Linked DNA regions of Homo sapiens. The protein of the gene in region 1 purifies or fractionates together with the protein of each later gene. This does not show direct contact. Each region holds a gene or a part of one and is shown on either strand. Other genes may lie near its edges. The genes, in order: DHRS12, DSG4, LTF, PLCD1 and HEPHL1.

Region 1 (3,521 bases):
CTAATTATTGAGCTCCTAATATGTTCCAAGTGCTGTCATAAGTGCCTTAGATGCGGCATCTCATTTAGGCTGCCCAAGAGGTATCTCTTATTATTCCCTTTCTGCAGATGAGGAGATAAGAGCTCAGAAAGGTTAAATCAACACACAAGATGGCACAGCTAGTAAGAGGCTGAGCTGTGACTTAAACCCAGGTTGTTCAAGCCCTTGTTACTGATATTTTTAAGTTTCAAGTCAACCTTTTTGGGAAGGCTTTGGAATAAGAAGTCTTGCTTGCCACTCACAGCAGAAGCAATGGGTAGGGTGTTCTCTAAGCTGCCCTGCATGTTCTGGTGAGTTACAGATGGTGAAAACAGGAACATTTTTCTTGTTCTCTTAAGAACATCTGGCTTGACTGAAACAAGTGGCAATGCCTGCCCCGTGGCAATGACTTTCAAACCAAACCCAAGCTCATAAACATCCTTTGGCCACTTCCCCGAGTTCCAGAGCATGTAACTGGCAGTTGTGCTGTACCAGGGCATGGGGCAGGAGGCCAGCTGTTGGCTACCCTTTTGTAAACAGGTCCTGTGGGAGGGCTCTCAGCATCTGTGGAGCCTTGAGATCAGAGTCCCATCCTGCATTGCCCAGGAGAAATCTCTCGGCTCCGTAGGTGAGAGATGTAAGCTCTGAGACCCCAGCCTGCCTGTGCGTGGGCAGAGTCTGCCCTCTGGGCCTCCACCTGCCAACCCCACCATTCTGCCACCACTGCCCTTAGCCAATTTCATAGCCAGGAAATACTAGAAGAGTAAAGGTAGAGAGGTATCGCAAAAGGAATGGGAAAAAGAAACAGTTAAAGAACTCACAATTGCATCTATCCAATATGATGCCTTTGTGCAAATCAGAAAAAATACCTCTTCTGCAATATGCTTTTCTGCCACCTGCCAGAACATTATCATAATGCAGATACAAATATCCCATCATTCTGATCCGAATGGCACTCCCTAGAGCTGTGCAGTGCACACCTTGTGTCCCTGAAGGAGCCTTGGCTTCCTCTGATGGGTGCAGAGCTTAAATAACTCTACCATCCTCCTCCTTTATTCCCTACTTGCAAATCTCCCCCGTTTCTCCAAGTAGGCAAGGATATCTGTCCTGCAATGCAATAAGCACAATGCAAATGGTCTCCTAAGCTTCCTGAAACCTGCCCCCCACAAAAGGGAAAAGAGCAATTCATCTGTCAAGGGATTTTTTTTCTTTTTGCCACTCCCCAGGATCGGGGCAGTCAGAGGAAGACAATTTGGATGCCAAAATGTTGGAATCTCCAATATTTTCAAAAGTTTGGAAAGATCATGGTCCAGGAAATGCAGGCCCCGAGATAGTGGTGTTTGTGAGAGCAGGGAGGGCAAGGGAGAAAGGAGTTTCGTGATGTGTTGGGAGAGGCGGAGACAGCAATAATGCCCATCCTAGAATTAGGCTTTCTCCTGCAGGGGTTTGTGTTCCCCACTCCTTACAGCTGGTCTTCCTGTGGGTCTCCTCTTTCTAGGAGTGGCTATGAATCTGCATGTAAAGACTTTGTCCCTCATGACTTGGAGGTCCAGATTCCTGGAAGAGTCTTTTTGGTCACTGGAGGAAACAGCGGCATTGGCAAAGCAACTGCCCTTGAAATCGCCAAGCGAGGTAAGCAGCTGCTAACACGTGTGTCCACTGAGCCCCACGGCCAGACTGCGGCCGGTCCACACTGAGGAGGGCACCCTGTGTCACAGGCAGGCCAGGAAGTCCTGGACGGCGATCCCATGGTTCTGGGCACAGCTGCCAGCTTTCTGAGTTTTGAGCTCCAGGTGGCTAGAGCAACAGGAGCCCTTTCCTCAACACTTAATTAATTCTCAGGCGAGCTTGGGGTCCTGCCCACGTGTCCCAGTGTTTTCTGATTAAGAACAGCGAGGGGCTCAAGCAAACCCTGGACATCAGAATCCCCAGTGGAATTTAATTAAAAAAACAAAAACAAAAACATGAACACCTGGTCTCTAACTCATGTCTTCTCAATGAGACTCTCCTGGGGTGAGAGACAAGGGGAGGGGGAGCCTCAAAGTCCACTGCAATTTGGATGTGGATGGTAGTTATGAACCAAGGCCCCCAAAATACCTGGAGAGAGGAGTGCATTGAACTAAACTTCCTCCTTGCTGGGGTCCAGCCTCCAGGGCTAGAGCAGCCTCCCGCTTCCCTCCCCTAAGCTTGACTATAAAGAGGTGCTTCAGGTGCACTGTAAAGTCTTCAGTCAGCAGAAGTCTTCCTCATGGTAAATGCCAGAATTTCCTGCATGAGCTCAACGATCCTGGGTCACCAAATGGCTCTGCAGTGGCTAGAAAAGTTTGCTGCATCTCTCCAGAGCCTCTTCAGGAAAAATGGATGTTCCAGCAGAAGGTGGGGAACTAGGTTGTGAATTTATCACTTTTTAAGATGCTGAAGATGTTTTCTTTTTTCCTCTCTCTAAATCCAAGTTAGGCATTTTTCAGGGGACTATTATATCATTTGAAGCTTTATTTAATTATCTGCCAAGTCAGGGAGAGGATTAATTGCATCTTAGCAGCTGGGAAGCACTCTGAAGTGCGGAGAGGAGGAGAGAAGAGGGGCTAGTGTTGTGGTTAGCCTGTAGCCTCCCATGAAACACCCCATTTAATCAAGTGGGTGATTTTTAGTAAAGAAAGCAGACTCCATAACGATTCGTTCTTAGCTGCCACGGCGAAGGCATTCTGCTTTAAATTGACCTTGATTGATGATGGTGTGGCATTTGCTGGGATAATATGAGGGCTGCTGATGGACTCAACATTCAGTCAATACTTGAGTCTCTACTACATGCTAGGCAAGTGGCTGTCTACTTTGGCTGAACATTACATCACCAGGGGAGCTTGTAAAACATACCCAGTCCTGGGCCTATCGCCTAGATCTTTAAAAGCTCCCTACATGAGTCTAAAGTGCAGCCAGGTTTAACACATCTGGGTCAGCTACTATGCTAGATGCTAGGGAGGCATATGTGACCCAGATCAATGTTTCTTATCCTTGATGTGTTCAGGCCCTCAAAAAATCAGGATGTTATTCCAGACGCACTGTCAGCACAGGTAGGCAATAAGGTTCCAGCACCTCCCTCACCATCGCCCTTGCTGCTCTTAACTCTGGGAACCACCCATCTAGGCTTAACAGAAGAGTGTCAACTGTGAGCCCATATGTCTTCATTTTTCATTAGGAAGAGCTGGTTTCTGTAGCTCTCGCTGTAACTCACAGATGGTTTCATTGAATTCCACCAGGTGGCACAGTTCACCTGGTTTGTCGAGATCAAGCCCCAGCAGAAGATGCCAGGGGTGAGATCATCCGGGAGAGCGGTAACCAGGTGAGCAGCTCCTCACCCCTCCTGCTGGGTTTCCTTGCCTCCATGGTCAGCTGTGAGGAGGCTGGACTCCTACCCGCTTTCCCTGGGTTGAAGAGGGCCTGTGTTTGTGCTTCTGCTTTGGAAGCAGCCTCGGCCAGCAGGGAGCTGGGCCCTGCTTTTGAAT
Region 2 (3,521 bases), on another chromosome or scaffold:
CATTTTCCCAGAATATAACTCTACAGCAATTGAGTAGTGGTTTCGGGTAAGCTTTGAGTTAGCGGTTCTCAACCCTAGTTGTACATAAGAATTAGTTAAAGGTCTTCCAAAATTACTCATACTAGAGTCATACTCAAGATGAGACCAAGCATCAGCATGTTCAAGCCCTTTGGTGAGACTAATGTGCAGTTCAGGGCTAAAAACCCAGTGCCAGCTGCATTTCCAGAACGTTAGCACTAAGAATTTCAAGACTTTTTCCTGACCCAGACAAAGAAAGCATGAGAGTTGTTCAACTGATGGATTGTAGAATAGGAGAGGAATACCCCTATGGACACTTGTTTTCAATGGAGAAGCCCATGGTCTATTTTAGGAGAGAGGGGGCAGTGTGATGGTAGTGGGAGGGATCTGAGCCCAAACCTATGTTCCCAAAGGGCCTCAAATTGACACTTTTGATGTTAGCTCCAAATGAGATTACACATACAGTAATTGTATTGGGTATGTGCTAAAAACACTTCATTTCATTTATTAGATAGTGCCTTTGTTAGAGTTCAGGCCTGCAATGGTACATGATCCAGCTCACATTTAAATTCACAGAAATATAGAATAGGCAGAACCATGGCCTAGGGGCTACCAATTTTAGTTTTAGTCCTTTTCCAGAAAATGCTATGGAAATGTATAACTTGACCTTTCACTGTTCATAGTGCAGATGGCAAAATTGCCAAATTAATTGTTGTAATAAGACTAAAGCTGATTTTGCAACTTTGATAGTCTCTTCTTTTGTATCTGTTTTTAATTTTTAATTTTTGTGGGTACATAATAGGTGTACATATTTATGGGGTACATTAGCTGCTTTGATACAGGCATGCAATGTGAAATAATCACATCCTGGAGAATGGGGCATCCATCCCCTCAAGCATTTATCCTTCTATTCTTTATCTTTAATTAACCCACTTAGTAAAATGCATGCCATGCTAGAGAATTAGGAAAGTATGAAAAGCAACCAGAGTGGGCCCAAAGAACTAAACAGAGTGTATTCTAGAATCTTAGAAAACTTAAGCAGTGTCTATATTTATGGATTAAAATACAGAATTGAGGTGATTATTAGGGTAACAAATAGGAAATTTCCTCTTAAGAAACACTTGGATAGCTAAACATTTTTGATAGCTTTAATTTTTCATTATAGTCTATAAACAAAGTCTTAAAATAATTGTAAATATCTCCATTAAATTTAGTGAGTATTATTTGACTTCTATTTTAAGTGTAACTGTAATAAGGATTGAAGATAGGTCCTATCTCCAGGTCCTATAGCTGAATCCTGTATTCAATCCTCTTGATAACATATATTCATGATGCGTTTAACTTACATGTATGTGTGCATCTGCCCCAACCAGTTCAAGAGTCTTAGACTAAAGACGACCTTACTTTCCTAATCTGTCAGCAAAGAAATTCAATTACCTGATCGCAAACTCCTTGCCATCTAGCGCTAAAGTTCTATGTGATTTGGTGGTGCTGTATTTATAAACTTGGATATGTATACTCAATCCCCTAAAGGAAAAAAATGAGATTTTCTTACATATATTTGTATTTTTGTTCTAAATATACTGCCACCAAATGCTCCCCAGAATGATTCATCCAGTGACTTCCTAAACCGAGCAATGTGTGTTAACTCGACATTGTCACTTTCTTGGGCAGTGGCTCCACTCTTGCTGCTCCTGTGTTGCTGCAAACAGAGACAGCCAGAAGGCCTGGGAACAAGATTTGCTCCTGTGCCTGAGGGCGGAGAAGGAGTGATGCAGTCTTGGAGAATTGAAGGGGCCCATCCCGAGGACAGGGTAAGTGGACTGTCACTCTCCAGAGAAGTGTGGAGTTTCAGTGGAAATTGAGCATGTCTTAACAATTACATGCTGCACAAAAATGAACAGATGTCAGTTTTTAAATGTTTAACATAAAGCGTTTGTTTTTAAAATGTTTATTTTTCTTTTCAGGATGTGTCAAATATATGTGCACCCATGACAGCCTCAAATACCCAGGATCGGATGGATTCCTCTGGTCAGTAGACACCAAAATCTGTTTTTCCTTTTAAATTTTTCAAAATTATTCAACCAGACCAACTTCATGTAAAAGTACCTTATGGAAAAGTCTGTCAGTCTCTTTGGGTGACAGTATAATTAGAGGGAATGTGACCTGTTTGAAGTAGCCACTTTTTTTTTCTATCTGAAACTACAGACAGTGAAGTATGACACAGCAGTTAAAAGAGCAAACTCTGGAAGCAGAATGCTTGGGTTTGATTCCCAGCTCTGCCACTTGCTTAAGGGTTGCATATCTTTTATCCGAAATGCATAGGACCATGAGTTTGAGTTTGGCTCAAACTTTTTGTACCATGATGATCAAAAAGTTTCAGACTTAGGAGCATTTTGGATTCTTGATTATTGGATTTGGGATGCTCAACCTGTAGTAATAAGTCCTTAGTCAAGACATTTAACCTCACTGGGCCTCAGTTTCCTTATCTTTAAAATTGAGCTTATGATAGTACCTACTTTAAAGTGTTGCTGTGAGGAGTAAATAATACATATTACATATGTAATATATAATACATACATATATTGTATAGATTATTTTATTATATATAACATACATGTGTATGTGTGTCTATATATATACACACACACATATATAAGTGTGTATATATACATATATCACAAAATATACGTTAGAGTAGTGCCTGGCACTGTAGTAATTATTTATAATACAAGCTGTTTTTTTTTAAAGAGCTAAAGAAAAGGCAGTAAATGTACTCTAATAATACACTGAATAACTTTTCTTAACTTCAGACAAGCTTTTGCCTCAAAAGAGTGTCGTAAACTCTCCTATCTTACCAGCCCCACGCATATCTAACAATACTGAACACACTACTTAGCTATATGGCAATGATTGCACCAAACAGAGAGGGTGCTTAATTCTGCAGTGCACGTGAGCTTTCTCTGATGGTTCCTTAGTATCCCAAGCTTGGCCCTTTGTATGCAAAGAAACTCCGTGACTGAACATCCCTGTGAGCCCAGCTCCATCCTGTTCCGGAGTGAAGGAGGACTATGAGCTCAGTTTCTGCAATCACGCCGCTGGCCTTGCTTTGGAGGGCTCCCGGCTGGATCAAGCCCGCAGCAGCCACGGCGGGAACGGGCGCCTGCTTGTAGTTCTCTTGGCTAGTTCTACACCTTTAAGTCTAGGGCGAAGTCTGTGCAAATGTGGGAAGGCCACGTCCCACCACTGACTCCCTCTGTGTAATTAATTTACTTTTATTTGGTCAACAAGCCTGGAGATGTATCGGTGTAACTTGTATCTCTCTTTGTCAGCTTTTTAGCGCCTACGCCTTGCCGGGTGGTGGTGGCACCGCAGACGGCGGCGGCAGCGTTTTAGGCAGATGCGCGCTGCAGGCAACTCCAGCGCTGTTAAACCAACATCCTCCCTTTTCAGAAATCTACACCAACACCTATGCAGCCGGGGGCACGGTGGAAGGAGGTGTA
Region 3 (2,901 bases), on another chromosome or scaffold:
GGTGGTTGCAGATGATGGAAGATAATCTTCCAGCCAATGTTTGAACAATCACTCTCTCTCCTGGTCCTCAGCCATTTGCTACCTTCCAATCTGCATCTGTCTCCTTAGCCCCACTTCAGCATTCCAACCCCCAAGTCTCAGCAGGTGACTTGCTATTCTGTTTCCTGAGAAAGAACTGTCTCCACTTTCGGCCTCCCTCCTTCAGTAATCACTGCAGTCTCAGCCACTTCTCCCTTCTGCTTCTGCTCCTTCTAGTGTCTCTTGGGACAGAGATTAAAACAAGACATGTAAATTTGAAATTATTTCAATATCAAATAGAGGAATCCAAGAGAATGAATAAAGTGCTTTCTTAAAGGGAGAGAGCAGAGAGACAAACGGGAGCCGGAACAATGAGCCGGCATCTGCACAAACATAGACATGCATACAATTACATTTAGAATTTACAAGCCATTAACTGAAGTAATCTCCAGGGATCAGATTGATGTCAAATTTAATTTTAACTTTCTCCGGTACTTTACAACTGTATTTTGTTAGAATTGGCTGTATATATTTGATAAACCTATAAAAGTTCCTTTCCTTTCTCTGGTTACACTAATAGCATTTGAATATGAAAGGGAGGAGAAACCAATTTCTCCTTGAATGTAAACCATCTATTCTTTTTCTGGAACTCACTGAAAAATATGGCATAGGTGGAGGGTTTTCTTCTTTAAAAAAATAAGAACTCTAAACAGCTTTATTGAGGTAGAATTCATATACTAAAAAATCCACCCATGCAAAGTGTACAATTCAGTGATCTCCAGCACATTCACAGAGTTGTGCAGCCATCAACACAATCCAACTCTAGAACGCTTGTATCCTCCCATAAAGAAACCCTTGCACCTATTATCAGTCATTGCCCTATCCTTCTTCAGCATTGGCAACCATCAATCCACTTTCTGTCTCCATAGGTTGGCCTATTCTGGACATTTCATATAAATGGAGTCATATAATATGTGGTGGGTTTTTTTTTTTGAGATGAGGTCTTGCTATGTTGCCCAAGCTGGTCATGAACTCCTAGCTTCAAGTGATTCTCCCACCTTGGCCTCCAAAGGGCTGGGATTACAGGCATGAGCCACCGTGCCCAGCCTATTGTGTGGTCTTTTGTGACTGGCTTCTTTCACTTAGCATCGTTTTCGAGGTTCATGCATATTGCAGGATGTACCAGAACTTCACTCCCTTTTATTGCTGAATAACATTCCATTGCATGGACACAGCACTAATATTTGGTATATTTGAAGTTTGTACAGCTTGTGTAGGATGAAGCTCCTTCTCTGTTCCTCACATCACCACAACCCCAGTGTGTGCATTTGGGAGGTCAGTGGAATGGCCACACCCACCCAGAAGAGACTTCTTGGCTAAGCAGGGGAGGCGTGGATGATGCCACCTTCTTTTTCTCCCCAGGAAATAACAATGAGGCATGGGCTAAGGATTTGAAGCTGGCAGACTTTGCGCTGCTGTGCCTCGATGGCAAACGGAAGCCTGTGACTGAGGCTAGAAGCTGCCATCTTGCCATGGCCCCGAATCATGCCGTGGTGTCTCGGATGGATAAGGTGGAACGCCTGAAACAGGTGTTGCTCCACCAACAGGTATGGACCACAGGGCTTCTAGTGCTTTCTTAGCTGTGTGGGCTCATGTTAGGTGAGGAGATCACAGAGCTAGGTGCACCAGCCCACTCGATCCTCTCTAGTCCTCTACTTGAAGCTCATGGTGAGAGTATTGGCTTCATGCTGTGGCGTTGCCCAGAGTGTCAACAAGAACAACAGAGGCTTTTGACTCTGGGCTTTCTGGGACTCACTCCATTTCTGCTGAGACTCTGTGCCCTGGCCTTGTTGCCATCACTGCCTGGCTCAGAGGCTGTCTTTTTCCCTCCTGCTGTTCTTCTGGCAAATGAGGAAGCCACTGAGCCTTCCTCCCACATGCATTAGTATAGTGCTTTTTACTCAGGTGACATTTCCTGAACCTGGGCCGAGTGAACAGTGCTCTAGGCCAGGCCTCTAAAACAGCAAACTCAGAAGGTGCCCTATAGATTTAGGGCTCTCTAAATGTGATTTGAACGAAATCCCAAAATTTTCTTAAAATCTGGGATTTTATTAGAACTTCTATTTTTATCATATAACATCATGTCTCTGTGTGCTTTTGAAGAAAACAACTCAGGAATAACAAGACTGGCCACCATAACTGGCCTTTATGGAGCTCTTAATGTGCACACACAGTGGTGCTGGTGAGAGAGCTGCCGTGACTGAGGGGTTTGGGTCTCAGTCTCCCCACATGGGAGCCTGGGACAGAGCAGGAACTGTGTGAGGGAGGCAGGGTGACCGACCTGCACACTGAGCTGGTTAGTGGCTGAGCCTGGGTTTTCCTAGCAGCCTGCCTCTCTAGAAGAGCTGCATATTAGAATGTCCTGAGCAATTGACTTGTGAGGGCAGATCTCAAAACCCCTCCATTGTTGCCTTGTCACCCATAAGAAGTTGTATGGGAAAAGGTCACAGGTTAAGAAGGAAGGAAAGATGGCAGATGGTAGGAGGTAGGACCAGAAGTGGTGCGAGGCCTGGATGCTGCCCAAGGCGGGCCTGCCACCAGGAGTGTGGGGTGGGGGACTCCACTAAGGAGGTGGAATGACTCCAGAACTCAGCTCCTTCTGCCCCATGGTTTTCTCAGGGCTGTTCTTGGGTGGAAGAAATACCCCTTTGCCTCCTTTAACCCATAAATTCCTCTTTTCCTTAGCTACTCACTGTCTGCCCTTTTGTCGCAGGCTAAATTTGGGAGAAATGGATCTGACTGCCCGGACAAGTTTTGCTTATTCCAGTCTGAAACCAAAAACCTTCTGTTCAATGACAACACTGAGTGTCTGGCCAGACTCCA
Region 4 (2,844 bases), on another chromosome or scaffold:
CCCAGCTCCTCAGGAGGCTAGGGCAGGAGAATTGCTTGAATCCAGAGGGCAGAGGTTGCAGTGAGCCGAGATCGCGCCAGTGTACTCTAGCCTGGGCAACAGAGCAAGACTCCGTCTCCAAAAAAAAAAAAAAAAACTTCATTCTAACATATATATGTTTTCCAAATTGTATATATATGGGTATAGATGTGGAAAAGAATAATTATGACAGAAAGCCAGGTGAAAAAAGTCAAGTTTAGAATGGTCCAGCCAAGCACGAGATTCGTGTGCTGAAGGCTATTCAGCAGGTGGAATATCCATTTCTTTAGTGTTGGATATTTATTATTATATATTATATGTTGAAAACCAGTCCAGATGGCTCATATCTGTAATCCCAGCACTTTGGGAGGTCAAAGCAGGAGGATTGCTTGGGCCTAGGAGTTTGAGACTAGCCTGGGCAACATAGGGAGACCCTGTCTCTACCCAAAAAAAAAAAAAAAAGCCAGGCGTGGTGGTGCGGTGCACACCTGTAGTGGGAGGATCACTTGAGCCTGAGAGGTCTAGGCTGCAATGAGCTGTGATTGTGCCACTGCACTCTAATCTGGGCGACAGAGTGAGATCTTGTCAAAAAAAAAAAAAAAAGAAAAGGAAAACCAGAAGGATATACTTTGGAATGTTGATAGTATTTATCCCTAGGTGATAGACTACGGGAGATTTGTTTGATTGTTTACTTTTCTGCATTTTCTAAATTGTCTACAGTGGGCCCTTTTGTAGTAAGAAAAGAAATGTTTTAAAAATTTTGAAAGGTTTGAAAACCAGCAAATAGAAAAAGACCCCTTAACATTTTCCTCTGAAGAGGCCACTGAAACATGGATGTGTAGTAAGTCAGGCCTGCAGGGAGCTGTGGCTATAGGTGGCTTCAGCTGGAGCCATCCATGGCTCTGGCTGGGACCTTGGTAGGTTCCAGGGTTCCTGGGTTCTTTCCTTACTTCTTGCCCAGCTGGATTCACTCCTGCTTGCGAAAAGCTGACAAAAACAAGGACAACAAGATGAGCTTCAAGGAGCTGCAGAACTTCCTGAAGGAGCTCAACATCCAGGTGGACGACAGCTATGCCCGGAAGATCTTCAGGGTGAGGCAGGAAGTGGGGGCTGGGGCTGCCTGTCCATGGGGCCCTTGACCCCGGCCCAAGGCCTGCTCTGAGCCCACTCGGCTGTCCTGGCTCTGCAGGAGTGTGACCACTCCCAGACAGACTCCCTGGAGGACGAGGAGATTGAGGCCTTCTACAAGATGCTGACCCAGCGGGTGGAGATCGACCGCACCTTCGCCGAGGCCGCGGGCTCAGGGGAGACTCTGTCGGTGGATCAGTTAGTGACGTTCCTGCAGCACCAGCAGCGGGAGGAGGCGGCAGGGCCTGCGCTGGCCCTCTCCCTCATTGAGCGCTACGAGCCCAGCGAGACTGGTGAGAGCCTGACCAGGGCCTGCTACCTGCAGTCGCAGGGCCGCACTGGGCTGGGAGACCCCTGGGGAGACTGCAGCCAGAAAGAAGGGAACCGGAGGGAAGGGGCTGCCTCAGCCAGCCCCGGGGCCCTGCTCCACACTTTCTGGTCCTATGAAAGCCGGCAGATGAGAGACAGGGCTCTGGCATCCCTACCCTTCTCTGGTCCTGTTTCCCTCTTGGCACCTCCTTCAGGGGGCTTTGAGGACCCCTTCTTCAAGAAACAAGAGAGATGGCTGAAAAGCAGATGCTACTCCTGCTTCTTTTTTTTTTACTCATTCTTGGCCCAGCTTTGAGATGTGATAGAGCAGAGAAGATGGGTCCCTGCCCTGGAGGGGGCTCCAGTCTGGAGGTACAGAGAACGGGGAGATGACACCCTGTCCTCAGGGGTCTTAGAGTGTGCAGACAGGGGAGGAGGAGGAGACAGGGCCCCACTCTGGAGTAGCCACAGTCTGGTCGAGAGCCTCAGACTTATCCTAATTCCAAGAGCTCTGGAAGACTGGCTCAGGACAGGCAGGCAAGCGGGTTCAGAGGGCTCCTCTGTCCAGATGGGTGGGCAGCCAGGAGCGCCTGCTGGAGGCTGGCTCTGACGGGCAGTGGCCTCCTCCCTCCCAGCCAAGGCGCAGCGGCAGATGACCAAGGACGGCTTCCTCATGTACTTACTGTCGGCTGACGGCAGCGCCTTCAGCCTGGCACACCGCCGTGTCTACCAGGACATGGGCCAGCCACTTAGCCACTACCTGGTGTCCTCTTCACACAACACCTACCTGCTGGAGGACCAGCTAGCCGGGCCCAGCAGCACTGAAGCCTACATCCGGTGCTGCTCAGGGAGCCTTGGGTCGGGAGTCTGGGTGGGACCCGGGACAGGACCTGGAGGGTCCTAGCCACCACCCTCCCCGCAGGGCACTGTGCAAAGGCTGCCGATGCCTGGAGCTTGACTGCTGGGACGGGCCCAACCAGGAACCAATCATCTACCACGGCTATACTTTCACTTCCAAGATCCTCTTCTGCGATGTGCTCAGGGCCATCCGGGACTATGCCTTCAAGGTGGGAGTGCCCCTGGCAGGTGAGGAGTGGGATGCTAGGGGTGGCCCACCACTCCTAATGTGCCCTTGGGCCTCCAGGCGTCCCCCTACCCTGTCATCCTATCCCTGGAGAACCACTGCACACTGGAGCAGCAGCGCGTGATGGCGCGGCACCTGCATGCCATCCTGGGCCCCATGCTGTTGAACCGACCACTGGATGGGGTCACCAACAGCCTGCCCTCCCCTGAGGTGTGTGGTGGGGATGGGGGATCCCTGGGGGAGGGTGGGGAGCCTAGCCGGGGCGCTAGGTGTGTCTTGACCAGTTGCCCCTCCCCACCTAGCAA
Region 5 (3,521 bases), on another chromosome or scaffold:
AAAGAATGTATATAGAAGCACATCCAGATGGTATTAAAAATTATTAATCTAATAGGGAGGGTGCAGCTTCACCAAACTGAATGTGCAATCTCCGTCTCCACCCTTCCTTTTTCCAAGTGACATTTGTCTCAATCTCATCTTTTTTTCTCCTTGGTGAAGAACGTTCCTTCTCAAGCTCAAACAATATTTCTTGTCCTTATTGTGACTCTTATGATCTCACATGTTGGATCTGACCACACTCTCTGCTAACATTATTTTGCAGTTTATCTTCATCTTATATTTCCCTGCCCTCTACACAGACATGTGGGCTCTGGACAGTAGAGTTGGCAGTTAACATTGTAAAACTGTGTTTACTGTCAAATGCATGTTTTGCTTCCCAACTAGATGGTAAAACTCTTGCATGCAGGGACTGAGATTAATACATCTTGGCCCCAGTTTCTAGTTTTATGTCCCAGACATAGTAGATGATCAGCAATTGCTCCAAGGAAGCTATCAGAAAACATCCCTCTAAAAGATGCAGAGGTCATGGGATTGCTGGGTGGTTTATATCCCTGCAAGCTACGAACTCCTGAGAATCTAACCTGGAAGTCCAACTCTGTACTGTGTAGGGGATTCCCAAGGGCAGGTTTGTTCTGATAATGATTAATCTCCTCTGCTTTTGGAAGATATCTCCATCCACAGGATTGGCCCCAGGCACTGGCAATGTAATGTTCCAAGTCCCCATCTTGTCTTTAAGGCAGTTGTTAATGTTAACCTTCCTGGCCCCACTGGATTCTTTTGCAGCAGGAAGTAGACACCTCCTTAGCTTGAGTCAAGATGTTAGAATGCAGATTGAAAATGTTCTTGAGGAATAGTGATTGCTCAGCCCCTCGCCATGGCTACGTGATAAACAACAGATGGCTCACCAATGCAACATTCTAACAAATATACTCCATTTAAATTGGAGGTTGCTTCATGGGGATGGCTCCCTTGAAGTTACTTCCTTACTTTGTTTCTTGGGCAAATTTGCATTTTATAGAACTCAAAGGAGCTGGAGTTTCTGTTCTACTATTACAAATGCATAATATGTTCTCAATGGGTGGTTTGCTGTGTAGACACTAAAACAAACTACTTTCTCTTATTTCTATCCCTTCCCACTTCTTTTTTTACTTTCAAGCTTTTTTTCCTATTAGTTAAAAAAGTATAGGATCTCACTGTATTGCCCAGGCTAGTCTTAAACTCCTAGCCTCAAGTGATCCTCCCACCTTGGCCTCCCAAAATGCTGGGATTAGGCATGAGCCACCACACCCAGCCTCAACAAATTTTTATCAAATAGTTACTATAGTTTTTGTTTTGTGTGAAGTATCTTCCTAGGGCACCTTCATGGGTCAACCCTGTCCTACTCTTGATGTGGAGTCAGTGCAGGGGAAGAAGTCCTGGGACAAGGAGGAAGCTATGGGTTCTCTTCACTGTCTGAGCAGGAGGCTCCTCCTGCAGCAGAGGAAGAGAGGGTCTTGCAATAATAATTAAATGCCCCCACCCAGAAGTGACACGTGGCATTTCCACTCACAGCCAATTTGCCAGAACACTATGGCCCATCTAACTTGCAAAAGCAGAATCACTGTGGTCTTCTTTGGTTAGGAGGAAAGAAAAATTAGAATACGCAAGCCCTAAAAAGCTCTACTACAGGAATCATTTGGTGATCTTAGGAAAAAATACAGATACCATGGTCTTGCCAGTAGAAAGTCTGATTCCATTGCCCTGAAGTGGGGCCTGAGAATAAAAATTTGGCAAATGTTCCAAATGATTCTGATGCAAGTGGTACATGGGTGGACATTTGGGAACCACTGCTTTAGAAAACCCAATCCCCCCTTGGGGTGACTATTGGCTGTATAGGTGATAAGACTGATATGTGTCCAGGAATATGAAAAACAGTCAATGTATAACTCAGTGCCAAAATATGAAGCATACCATAAGTGCTCCAGTCCCTACAGGGACTCAGCAAACACTTCACTGCCCCTCCTGATACTTATTTTGCCTCTTATTTAGTGCCTTTGCCAGACAACTCATGGTAAGACCTGGTCTTGTGGAGGTGATGGAGAAAGGTCTTGGGCAGAGGTGGGGTCAGGACCTCTTAGCAGATTAAAAGCAGGAGTACATATGTGAAGATGTGAGCATGTGTGCTCCACATGCATCTGCATGTGTGTATACTTTTGTGTCTTCATGTGTGCAGTGGGAGAACAGGGTAGAGAAGTAGAGTCCAATGTCCATCCTTCCCTATAGGGCCTGTTGGAATGATAAGGTCCTATGAATAATAGTTTTGTATTATAGTTTTTACCCATCAGGCTGAACCCAGAGAGCATACCAGGGATTCTGAATCTAATCCTTGCTGTGCCACCTTACTGGGTGACCCATTGTCAGCTATAAAACTGGGCAACTCTGAGGCTTATTAGCAAGCTTGGGGATGACTCAGTTCTTCCTCTGCCTCTTCCTCTTCCTTCTCCTTTTGCACAGCCTGTTCAATCAGGAGTTGTATTCAGCTACTCTTTAACAGAATCCTGAAAAACAGAAGTGGTTTAAATCGATTAAAGATTTATTATTATTGCTTACATAAAAGAGAGCCAGAGGTTGGCAATCATCTGGGTCCCAGGTTCCTTTTGGCTCTCACTTGACCATTCCTAGGGTGTGACCCTCTTCCTCGTTATCTCAAGATGGCTGCTGGAGCTCCAGTCATCATGTCTACATTTCAGGCATGAATAAAGGGAAGAGAAGAGGAGAAAAATGGTGTCTTCCAGCTACACCTGGAGAAGTATCATTGAGTGACTTCTGCTTACATCTGATTGGCTAGAATTATGTCACATGACTATTCCAAGTTGCAAGCAAGTCTGAGAAATGTAACAGCCTCTATTATAAAGGTCCAGGGGTCAGGCATCCCAACTTTTATATCCCATTCTCTTGCACAGGGAAATGTAAGTCTTTGCCTTATAGAGTGGGAGAGGGCTAACTCTTGCTCCTGGGTAGACACATGCAGGCTTAGTGGATGCTTGGATACAAGAGACCCAGAATGTTCATACACAGTCCCAAGACTTCAGCCTCAATGCCTGAGAGGAGAGTTGGCAAGCCAGAGGTTGAGCAGGGATAGTGAGCAGATGCCATGCTCTCTGCTCCAGAGGCCAATCCCCTTGCAGAGCAGAACTCAATCCAACAACACCCTTTGTTGTGGCAGCTTTGTTTTTAGAAATAGAAGGCATGCAAGAGAATTTTGGCCCCTTGGAGGCCAAACAGCATGGGTCTTCTTTTTTTTTCAATAAAACGTGAGCTTGTTTTTAGTATTGAATTTGTAGGTACAGAGTAACCGCCCCTCCCCCTACAACAGTATAAAAGAGGATGAGTGAAAGTAAACTTCTCCTCCGTCCTCCCTCCCACCTGTGGCTTCAGTCTCATAGTCTGGAGGCTACACTTTGTTTCCCTGGTCACTTTCCAGATGTATTCTTTGCATATGGGTAAATGTGCATTGTTACACACACACACACACACACACA

Evidence for each region.
Region 2: the proteins of DHRS12 (region 1) and DSG4 purify together in Homo sapiens (affinity purification with mass spectrometry; one large-scale study listed by BioGRID and IntAct). This does not show direct contact.
Region 3: the proteins of DHRS12 (region 1) and LTF purify together in Homo sapiens (affinity purification with mass spectrometry; one large-scale study listed by BioGRID and IntAct). This does not show direct contact.
Region 4: the proteins of DHRS12 (region 1) and PLCD1 purify together in Homo sapiens (affinity purification with mass spectrometry; one large-scale study listed by BioGRID and IntAct). This does not show direct contact.
Region 5: the proteins of DHRS12 (region 1) and HEPHL1 purify together in Homo sapiens (affinity purification with mass spectrometry; one large-scale study listed by BioGRID and IntAct). This does not show direct contact.

The regions. Positions count from the first base shown.
Region 1 is NC_000013.11:51,797,663-51,801,183, reverse strand, and holds part of DHRS12 (dehydrogenase/reductase SDR family member 12), read left to right. Parts: intron 1-1,516; coding exon of another isoform or gene 1,517-1,524; coding exon 1,525-1,650; intron 1,651-3,275; coding exon of another isoform or gene 3,276-3,358; intron 3,359-3,521. UniProt on the Homo sapiens protein: Putative oxidoreductase.
Region 2 is NC_000018.10:31,407,760-31,411,280, forward strand, and holds part of DSG4 (desmoglein-4 isoform 2 preproprotein), read left to right. Parts: intron 1-1,692; coding exon 1,693-1,832; intron 1,833-1,985; coding exon 1,986-2,049; intron 2,050-3,350; coding exon of another isoform or gene 3,351-3,471; coding exon 3,472-3,521.
Region 3 is NC_000003.12:46,438,020-46,440,920, reverse strand, and holds part of LTF (lactotransferrin isoform 1 preproprotein), read left to right. Parts: intron 1-1,440; coding exon 1,441-1,625; intron 1,626-2,791; coding exon 2,792-2,901. UniProt on the Homo sapiens protein: Transferrins are iron binding transport proteins which can bind two Fe(3+) ions in association with the binding of an anion, usually bicarbonate. Lactoferricin binds to the bacterial surface and is crucial for the bactericidal functions.
Region 4 is NC_000003.12:38,009,809-38,012,652, reverse strand, and holds part of PLCD1 (1-phosphatidylinositol 4,5-bisphosphate phosphodiesterase delta-1), read left to right. Parts: intron 1-979; coding exon 980-1,109; intron 1,110-1,207; coding exon 1,208-1,439; intron 1,440-2,090; coding exon 2,091-2,292; intron 2,293-2,377; coding exon 2,378-2,522; exon of another isoform or gene 2,523-2,599; coding exon 2,600-2,749; intron 2,750-2,841; coding exon 2,842-2,844. UniProt on the Homo sapiens protein: The production of the second messenger molecules diacylglycerol (DAG) and inositol 1,4,5-trisphosphate (IP3) is mediated by activated phosphatidylinositol-specific phospholipase C enzymes. Essential for trophoblast and placental development.
Region 5 is NC_000011.10:94,027,834-94,031,354, forward strand, and holds part of HEPHL1 (ferroxidase HEPHL1 precursor), read left to right. Parts: intron 1-3,521. UniProt on the Homo sapiens protein: Is a copper-binding glycoprotein with ferroxidase activity. It oxidizes Fe(2+) to Fe(3+) without releasing radical oxygen species. May be involved in the regulation of intracellular iron content.